Regions from separate parts of the Homo sapiens genome. Here region 2 is linked to region 1. The links come from fine-mapping of genetic effects on gene expression. A gene starts in region 1. The other region holds a variant in brackets. All regions are shown on one strand. Distances are between the middles of the regions. Region 1 holds the start of MTSS2 (MTSS I-BAR domain containing 2). Region 2 overlaps VAC14 (VAC14 component of PIKFYVE complex).

What was found. PIP is the estimated chance that this variant, and not a neighbour inherited with it, causes the effect.
Region 2: its variant is fine-mapped to the expression of MTSS2 in whole blood (TOPMed, PIP above 0.99). The same link has a PIP of 0.9 or more in T cells.

The regions. Positions count from the first base shown.
Region 1 is chr16:70,683,878-70,688,386 of GRCh38, reverse strand. It overlaps MTSS2 (MTSS I-BAR domain containing 2), which reads left to right and starts at 2,334. Exons shown (of 15, transcript NM_138383.3): 1 at 2,334-2,664. The coding sequence starts at 2,596. It overlaps VAC14 (VAC14 component of PIKFYVE complex), which reads left to right. Exons shown (of 19, transcript NM_018052.5): 19 at 297-948. The coding sequence ends at 459. RefSeq lists an enhancer at 300-806.
Region 2 is chr16:70,744,789-70,748,788 of GRCh38, reverse strand. All of the region lies in intron 12 of VAC14 (VAC14 component of PIKFYVE complex), which reads left to right. Among named protein-coding and RNA genes, the nearest start is that of VAC14-AS1, 8.3 kb to the left of the region's middle. RefSeq lists enhancers at 842-1,476, 1,721-2,221, 2,222-2,722. The variant T/C (reference allele first, on the strand shown) is at 1,527.

The sequences.
Region 1 (4,509 bases):
AAACAGGAAATGCTTCCCAATGCGATGCCTGCTCTGGGCGCCATCGCCAGCCCACAGGCCGAGGGCAATAGCCAAGCAGCAGTGTTAGCTGTTCCCACCAACTGCGGAAGAGGGGGATGCTCAGGGGCTTCCCAGCTCTGGGGCCCGCCATGACGGAAGAGTTGCCAGGCCTGAGACAGACGCCCACAGGCCGAGCCCACCAGCCTGTGGCTCTGCCTCTGACCCCACTGCCCTCCAGCAGTAACCCCCCTGTGAGCTGATCCCTGACACTGAGCATTTCTGCTCCCTCTTCCCAGAGACAGTCTAAAGGCAGCCCCCAAGTCCCAGAAAGCTGACTCCCCTAGCATCGACTACGCAGAGCTGCTGCAGCACTTTGAGAAGGTCCAGAACAAGCACCTGGAAGTGCGGCACCAGCGGAGCGGGCGTGGGGACCACCTGGACCGGAGGGTTGTCCTCTGACAGGCCTGGCACGGAGGAGGGCCCACCGAGTGGTCCCATGAAACACTAAGGGTCGTCACGCCCTCCCGAGGAGCTCAAGGACCTGCCTGTCAGGACCAGGGCTGGGCCTGCCAACCCAGGGCAGTGTTGGGGCCGGAGGCTGCTGTGTCTGCCCAAGCTCCTCTCAGAGTCCAGTCCCCAGGCCTCCAGCGCTGTCAGCTGCACCCTGGCATTCTCACAGAGCTGGCTGCCCACCCAGTGGGGGGCTATAGCCTCAGAGACCACTCATCCTCTGGAATCAACCTCTTTCTAATACCCTCTTGGAAAAAGAGCTTGCCCCTCCTCCAGCACACTAGAGCTCTGGCCTTGTGTGTATATGTATACATACGTGAACACATGCCTGTGTGTGTGTGTGTGTGTGTGTACTTGTATGCACGTAGGCACCAGCACAAAGATCTGAATGATGCACCCCACCCCCACCCCAATAAAGAAATAACAGAAAACCCTCAACCCGAGCCGGCCTGCTCCTTCCCAGCTGACACGTGCAGCTGTCCGGGGGCCTCACCCTCTGTCCTGGAGATCGGGTTTCATGATGGCCCCAAGGAGTACTGGCTGCCCCAGGGCCTGGTCCCTGCACTCACCTGAGTGGAGCCATGGGCCTAGAGCCTAGGTCCCCACCTCTGGAACCTGCACCCTCCTGGAGAGCACCATGCACTGCCTGCCCTGGAATCCTGAACCCTGCCTTCCCCAATCTGCCTTTCTCATCCTGACTCCCTGGGGCAATGGGAGTTCCCCACTGGGGACATGGGAGCTGAGCCCCAGGAGTTCCTGGATGAAAGGGCAATGCACACTGCAGAACACTTTGCAGATCTCGGGGCAAGGGGAGGAAAAGCCCAGAGCAGTCCAGGGAGGGGCAGGTGCCCCAACCACTGCTGCAGCTGAAAGCCCTTCCTCACCGGGAGTGGTACCACCTGTCCCCAGGCTTTGGGAACCCTGGGCTTGGTCTCCTAATGAGCTTGTAATTGGCTCCCTCCGGCCCATGGAGTAGGCGAGAAGGAGCTTGTGCCTGCTCTTCCCCAGAGTGCGCTCCCCCATCGTGCTGCCCCCCAGGGTGGGTTTCCCTGCCTGGAGTCTCCAGGACAGGCTGCGATTGACATTGCTACCCCATGCACGTGTGTGCATCGCACCCACCGTGGACTCAGGCAGCAGAGACCAAGGACACTCCAGCTCTGCTCTGCAGGTCCGACATTAGCCCCCACCCGCGAAGAAGGAGGTTGTTCAAGGCCCAGGAGACTACCACTGCCCCCCAAATGCCCAGCCTTGGGCACCCCATCCGGGTGGCATCGGCACCACTTGGAGAAGGAGCCAAGGAACTTGGAAGGGTCCGAACTTGAGGAAGGTCTGTGCCTGCGATGAAACGTCCCAAGGCGGGCGGCTCCACGATACCCCGCGCCCTGCTGTGTGCGGTGTATGCCACCCATCCAGCCCATGCACCGACCCCATCCCGCCACTGTACCCACTGCCTGTCTTTAGAAGCGCGAGAAGCCCCCCGCCCCAGACCAAAGGCCAGAAGATATCGTGGAGCCCCTGCCCGGGGGCCGAGGCCCAACCGCCAGTCCCGCTCCTGCGTGGGCAGGGCGGGCCCCGCCCAGCGCCGCCCCCCGACCCTCGGTGGCGCCCGCGCCCGTCGGCCCCGCTCGCCGGACCAGTCTGGCAGCGCCCGGGCTCGGATTTCAAAGCCCTGGTTTCTGGCCGTGAATGGGCCTGCGCCCGCGCGGCCGTTCCCACAGCCCCCTCCCGCGCGGCCCGCCCTCCTTCCCTCCCTCCTCGCGGTCCCCCCTCCGCCGCGCCCACGTGACGCCCGATCCTCGGCGGCTCGGATTACCGCCGCCGTCAGTCCCCGCGCCGAGGCTGCGCCGCGAGCTGCCCGCGCCGCGCCCCCCGCGCCGCCCGCCAGCCCCGCTGCGACATGGCCCGCGCCGCCCGCCGGAGGCCCGCGACCCCGGAGCGCGGCGCGGCCGGCCGCTGAGCGCAGCCTGGAGGCGGGAGGCCCGGCCCGGCCTCGGAGCGAGCGCCCGCGCGGCCTGGCCCCCTCCCTTGCGCTGCTCCCCGCGCTCCGTGCGCCTAGCCGCCGCCGCGGCCCGGCCCAGCCAGAGCATGGAGACGGCGGAGAAGGAGTGCGGCGCCCTGGGCGGGCTCTTCCAGGCCATAGTCAACGACATGAAGGTAACCGGGGCGCGGCGGGGCCGGGCGCGCGGCGACGGGTGCGGGACCCCCCGGGGACGCGTGGCGGCGGGTGGCCGAGCCTCGTGTGGCCGCGCGCCGCGGTGTCTGTGTGTCCTTGTCTGAGCGCGTCCTGCCTGCGTCTGCTGGGCGCCCGTGTCTCCGGGTGCCCGTCTGGGGGTGTGGGTGCTCGTGTGTCGGGGTGTCCGTGCGGTGCCCGCGGTGGCCCCGTGGGGTCCTGACCCGAGCCTGTGCACACGCAGGCTCCCTGCGCCCCAGACCGCCAAACCATGAATGGGGTTTGGATCCAGGACCGACTCTAGGGCCCTTTAACGAGTCCGGGGTCTTACCGGCCTCCGCCCCCTTCCACCACCATGTTCCCCCACGGCCCCGGAGCCCAGACAATGCTGTCACCGCCAAAGCAGGAAAAAATAATAAAGCGGAGAACCGTTAACTCCTTCCCCGCCGACCTAGGCCTCTGCACCCGACCGTGAGACTGCGTCCCCCAGCCCCGCCCCACCCCCACAGCCCCAGGAAGCTCCAGGACTCCAAGGTCTCCAGGCTGAATGTCCCTGCATCCCAAGGATAGGCCTTGATCATCACCTTGGGAGGAGGCGGGATGAAGGTTGGGGTCGGTGGAGCAACCCCAAGGAAGCGCTTTTCCTACCCCATTACCACCCTGGGCTCTCAGCTCCGAGCCCTCCTTGTCTCCCAGGATTGCTTAAGGTCAGGCTGGATCCAACCACCCATTCATTCCTCACCCCACCAGGTGGGGAAACTGAGGCCTGGAAATGGCTCAAGGTCACTAAGGAGACTATTGGACCCTTCCCCTGACCTCAGCCCCCATTTTTCCTCCTGGGAAAATTAGTGGGTTCCTCTCCCCAAATGAGGCCAGGGTTTGGCAGGGCTGCCCTACGCTGACTAGGCAGAGAGGGCCCAGCTCCAGTGATAGGGTGGGGGCCAGGAACCAGTATTCCTGCCCTCCTGCCGTGCCCCCTTTCCTTAGCCTAGGATGAAGGGGCAGGATTTGGGGGCTGGGAGAAGGGGAAAGAACGAGGCACCCCACAGGATCTCCCAAGGGCCCCCACCCCCACAGCCCAGCGCAGATTCTCCAAGTGCACAACACAGAATCCCACCAGGCCAGGGATGGGGGTGACACCACCCAGTACAGTGCTGCTAGGACAGGCCCCGTGAGGGGTGGGGGTTGCTGGCAGGTTGGAGTTCGAGGCTCCCGGTGCTGCCAGGACAACAGCCCCAGGGACAGCTGCCAGATCTCTGCCCCCGGAAGAGGCCTGAAGCCAGCCTGGCCTGGGACTACCCAGTTAGCGGCTTGTAGATGCCCCCCACCCCCTGCCCCTCATGGTGCACTCCCCCTGGGACCCCCATCTCTTGCAACTGTACATCTGGGCCCCTCCGCTGGCCCCCAGCAGTCCCCACCTGTCCTGTGGACATCACAGCCCTGGCCCCAGGATCCTGTTAAGGGACTGGGCAACACAGACCACCCTCCCCTGGCCGATCCCAGAGCTGGCTCCGGATGGGCCTTCCCGCACCCCACCACCCACCACCACTGGCAGCCTCATAGCAACCACTGCAGAGAGCAGCAGATTTTGCTCGTGGAAGTGGACTAGGACAGTCTCTCTCCCTCTCCAGCCAATTTGCAAGGAACTTTGGGATGAGACAGAAGGAAGTGGGCCCAGATCATAGCAAGAGGTTCAAGCCAGACATCGGGCATGATTTGCTGACATGTGGAGGCAAAACAGGAGAGGCTTCACCTGGGATGATGCCAAGGACAGATTCGCCCCTACCTATGACACAGGCATGTGTTCAGGGGCCATGACCAGGGGCAGA
Region 2 (4,000 bases), 61 kb before region 1:
TTTTAGGAGAGAGGGGGTTTCACCATGTTGGCCAGGCTGGTCTTGAATTCCTGACGTCAGGTGATCTGCCTGCCTCGGTCTCCCAAAGTGCTGGGATTACAGGCGTGAGCCACCGCACCTGGCCTTGTGTCATGAGCTCTTGAAGATCTGGCCCTGCCTACCACTTTGGCCTGATTTCTGGCCATACCCTCACCTCTGGCCCCATTCCCCACTCTGGAGCTGGCCCCAAAGCCTAGTTTCCTGGAATGTGCCACGTGGTTCTGCGTCCATGAATGGCTTATGCTAGGTAAGAGAATACTTTGAATGCCATTCTCTCCCTTCTTACTCCCTTGGCCAACTCATGCTCAACTACTTCCAGAGCCTCCTGGCTCCCCCCCAGGCATCATCACTGGGTCCCTGGCACCCGCCCTGTATTATCAGTAAATGCTCACCACCTGACTCCTCCGGGAGTCCATGACCTCACTGAAGGCAGAGCCTGACCTGTCTGGCCTTGTGTCTCTTATACCCAGCACAGGACTAGCCCACAGCAGCTGCTCAGCAGCTGTCTGGAGAGGGAGCATTGTGTGGTTGAAGTTAACTGGTCCAGGGTCAGGATTGGATGTCAGGACTGTCTGACCACAGCACCCTGTGTAGTGTTATCAGCAGGCTCAGGTTTGGGGACCAGAGCTGGGTTTGAGGTGGACTCGCTGTTACCTTGAGCAGGTGACTGTCCAAGTCTCAGTTCCCTTGTGTGTATCCTGTGAGGTGAGACTGGTGACAAGTGAGGGCATTCATTGTGGCCGGGAGCGAGGACAGCCTGCTCCTCTGGCCCTGGAGCCACTCGAAGGGTGGAGACAACCTTGCACAGGCCAGGCCTCTCGGTGGCTTTTTCCAGGCCTCTGTTCTGACAGGGAAGTAGGTACCTGCCGGATACCCAGCATGAATCAGTTTGTCCCCATGGCACAGGGATCTTGCCGAGTGCTGGCCTGGCCCCAGCCGCCCCGCTGGATCACACTTTCTCCTCACTTTCCTCCCCTGCTGCACGTGGCCACCAGTGTTGGCCGCCCAGAGGTGTGTGCCTCTGTCCCCCTGTGCAGACAGACCTGGGTGGGATGGGCAGCATGGGGGCGAGGGGGCAAAGTGATGTAAAGAGACACAGATCTCCTCACCGTGCTCCTCCTCTCCCCTGGATCAGGCGAGAGACACCAGGGAGTGGGTGAGACCCCACCACCTCGGGCTGTGGGCAGAGCAAGAGCAAATGGGTTAGGAATTAGGTTGCTGATTTAGGGTTTTGCCCCCCCCGCCCTTTTTTTGTACAATTCACATACCATAAAATTCATAAAAACGACTCTATTGTATACTTTAAAAGTATACCATAGAGTAACTTTTAGTATTTTTCGCAAGATTATACAACCATCAGTACTAATTCCAGAACATTTTCATGACCCCAGAAAGAAGCCCTGTATGTACCCTGCACCCGTTAGGAGTCACTCCCCATGCCTCCCTCCCCACGCCCCTGGCGACCACAAATCCACCCTCTGTCTCTG[T/C]GGATTTGCCTGTTAATGGAGTCATCATACAGGATGTGGACTTTGTGGCTGGCTTCTCGGCAGGTGTTTTCAAGGTTCATCCACGTGTAGCAGGTACTTCATTTCTTTTTATTACCAAATAATATTCCCTGGTGTGGATGTGCCACGTTCCATTTCTCCTTGTCTCCACTGCAGGGCCTTTGGGTTATTTCCATTTTGTAGCTATTAGGAAAAATGCCGCTGTGAGCATTTATATATAAGTTTGATGTGCACAGACGTTTGCAGTTCTCTTGGTAACTGCCTAGGAGTGGGAGTATACCTATGGCAGCTCTCTGGGTAACTGTTTGAGGAGCTGTTGGCTTGACTCTTGCCTCACTGTTTAATTTTGGATGAGTCATTCCCCCATCCTCCCCCCACCTCCATTTCCTGGTCTCAAGTCCCCTCCCTGGCCGTGCTTGGACAGTCCAGCAAGCATTGGTGTGCATGGCCTTTGTACATCCTGCCGTGGCAGGTGTGCAGGGGCTGAATCGGGCAGGACCGCGGCGTCATTCATTGCTGTGCCACTTCCCCATCCTGCCCTCCGCCCTGTGTCTTTCTTCTGTGGCTGAAGCAAAGAATCCCTGGAGGCTCTGTCCTCAGTGGAAGCAGAGGCCTCGGCCCTCCCTACTTCTAGGCTGAGACCCACCCAGGGCTCCCCGGCTCCTGGCCTGGGTGGAGGGGCACCCCTTGCTCCTGCCATATGACTGGGCTGTGTGGCAGCCATGTGTCTCAGCCACGTGGATTCATCAGCTCTCCACTCTGTGTGCCAGGCCACGGGCAGGGGTGGCTGTGACTCACCTTTACAGCCCCAGAACCCAACGCAGCCGCTGGCACAGAGCAGGGTCCCAGGGGCCCACAGACATCCCAGTCTCCATGAGTGGGAGAGGGATGAAGGGAAGGACAGAATTGGACAGTAGGAGGGGAGTCTGTGAGAGTGAGTCTGTGTGAGCGAGTGCCAGCTCCTGCCTGGATGAGGCTGGGAGATTGCGTGCCAACACGTGACACTGTTTGAAGACTGAGGGGGCGGGAATGGGTGAGCAAGCAAAGGGGTTCCCGGCCAGGGCTGGCCTAGAGGAACCAGGAGGAGAAGTGACAATTGGGCAGTGTGGGGGAGGCACTGGCACTGTGTTTGCATTGACAGGAATGGCTTTTGAGGGGGTAGGCCTTATCTTTTTTGTTTGTTTTCTAGATAAAATTTGCCCTTTTGAAGCATAGAATTCACTGGCTTTTAATATACTCACAAGCTTTTTGCAACCATTACCCCCATCTAATTCCACAACATTTTAATCCCTCAGTAGGAGCCCTACAGTGCTAACCTTATCTTGTATTCCCATATTCCAGCCACCTGGCCGGTCCTGGCCCACATGGCCCTGCCCATCAGGCTCTGTCCCACTTTCCCTGGTCCAGGGCTGAAGCCCCGGTTGCCGTCGTTATTCTTGGCCTGGGCTCAGAGTAGCCCAGGAAGAGGCACAGGCAACCACCCAGTCAACTGATGTTTGTTGGGCATCTGCTGGGCGCAGGGACAGTCCTGGAGATACACCTTTTGGGGGGACAGGCATAGTCCCTAGCCCAGAGCAAGAGAGGAGTGAGGGGCAGAAAGAGCAGGCGACCACCTGCAGTGTGAGGAGTTCCCTGCAGGATAAACACAGCCAGCAGAAGGTGGCCAGGAAGCCTCAGCAGCCCCTGGGGCAGGTGCATGCACACAGGCACACGCGCGCACACGCGCACACACACACACACACACACACACACACACACACACTGAAGCCCCTCCCAACAGGGCAGGTCCGTGGCCCCTCTCCCTATTGCCCATTGCAGCAGAGTGGTAGGCTGGACTTTGCCGCCCTGCCAGCTCTTGGTGCCAGGCAAAGATGGGTGCTGTGCGAGGAGAGGCAGCTTCTAAGGATACGGGGGCTGTAGAGCAGCCCTGGGGACATTGTGACACAGTGCTGACCTGCGCTCACACTCAGCACTGGTCCCACGCCCCACTCTGCCTCTGTCTCGGAAGAACTCAGCAGGCAGGTGGTCAGGCTGGGGCCTCACCCCACCCACATCTGTGCAGGGACACTTTAGAGCCACCGAGGACCACCTGACATGTCTGGACATTAGGAAGTCCTTTACCTTGGAGACCAGAGTAGCACGCCAAATGTGGAGGACGCTTTAGGGTCTGCAGTGGCCTGGTGTCACCTCTGCAGAAGCAGCTGTTCTGTGGCCCAATGGTGGGTGGGGCCGTGGCTACCGCACACAATAGAACATGGTCTGGAGGGCACTTTGGGAGCCTTGCGCAGCCTGCGGGCCTTGAAGTGCACACTGTGCAGATAACGCCCTGCTTCCTGAGTCCTGGGACTCCTGGGGACCCTCAGAGCCCTGTTCAAGGGACCCGAGAGAGGGATCGTGGGGAAGCTGACTCTCCGAACCTCAGATTCCAGTTTCCTTCCTCCAGAGGCCCCATTCAC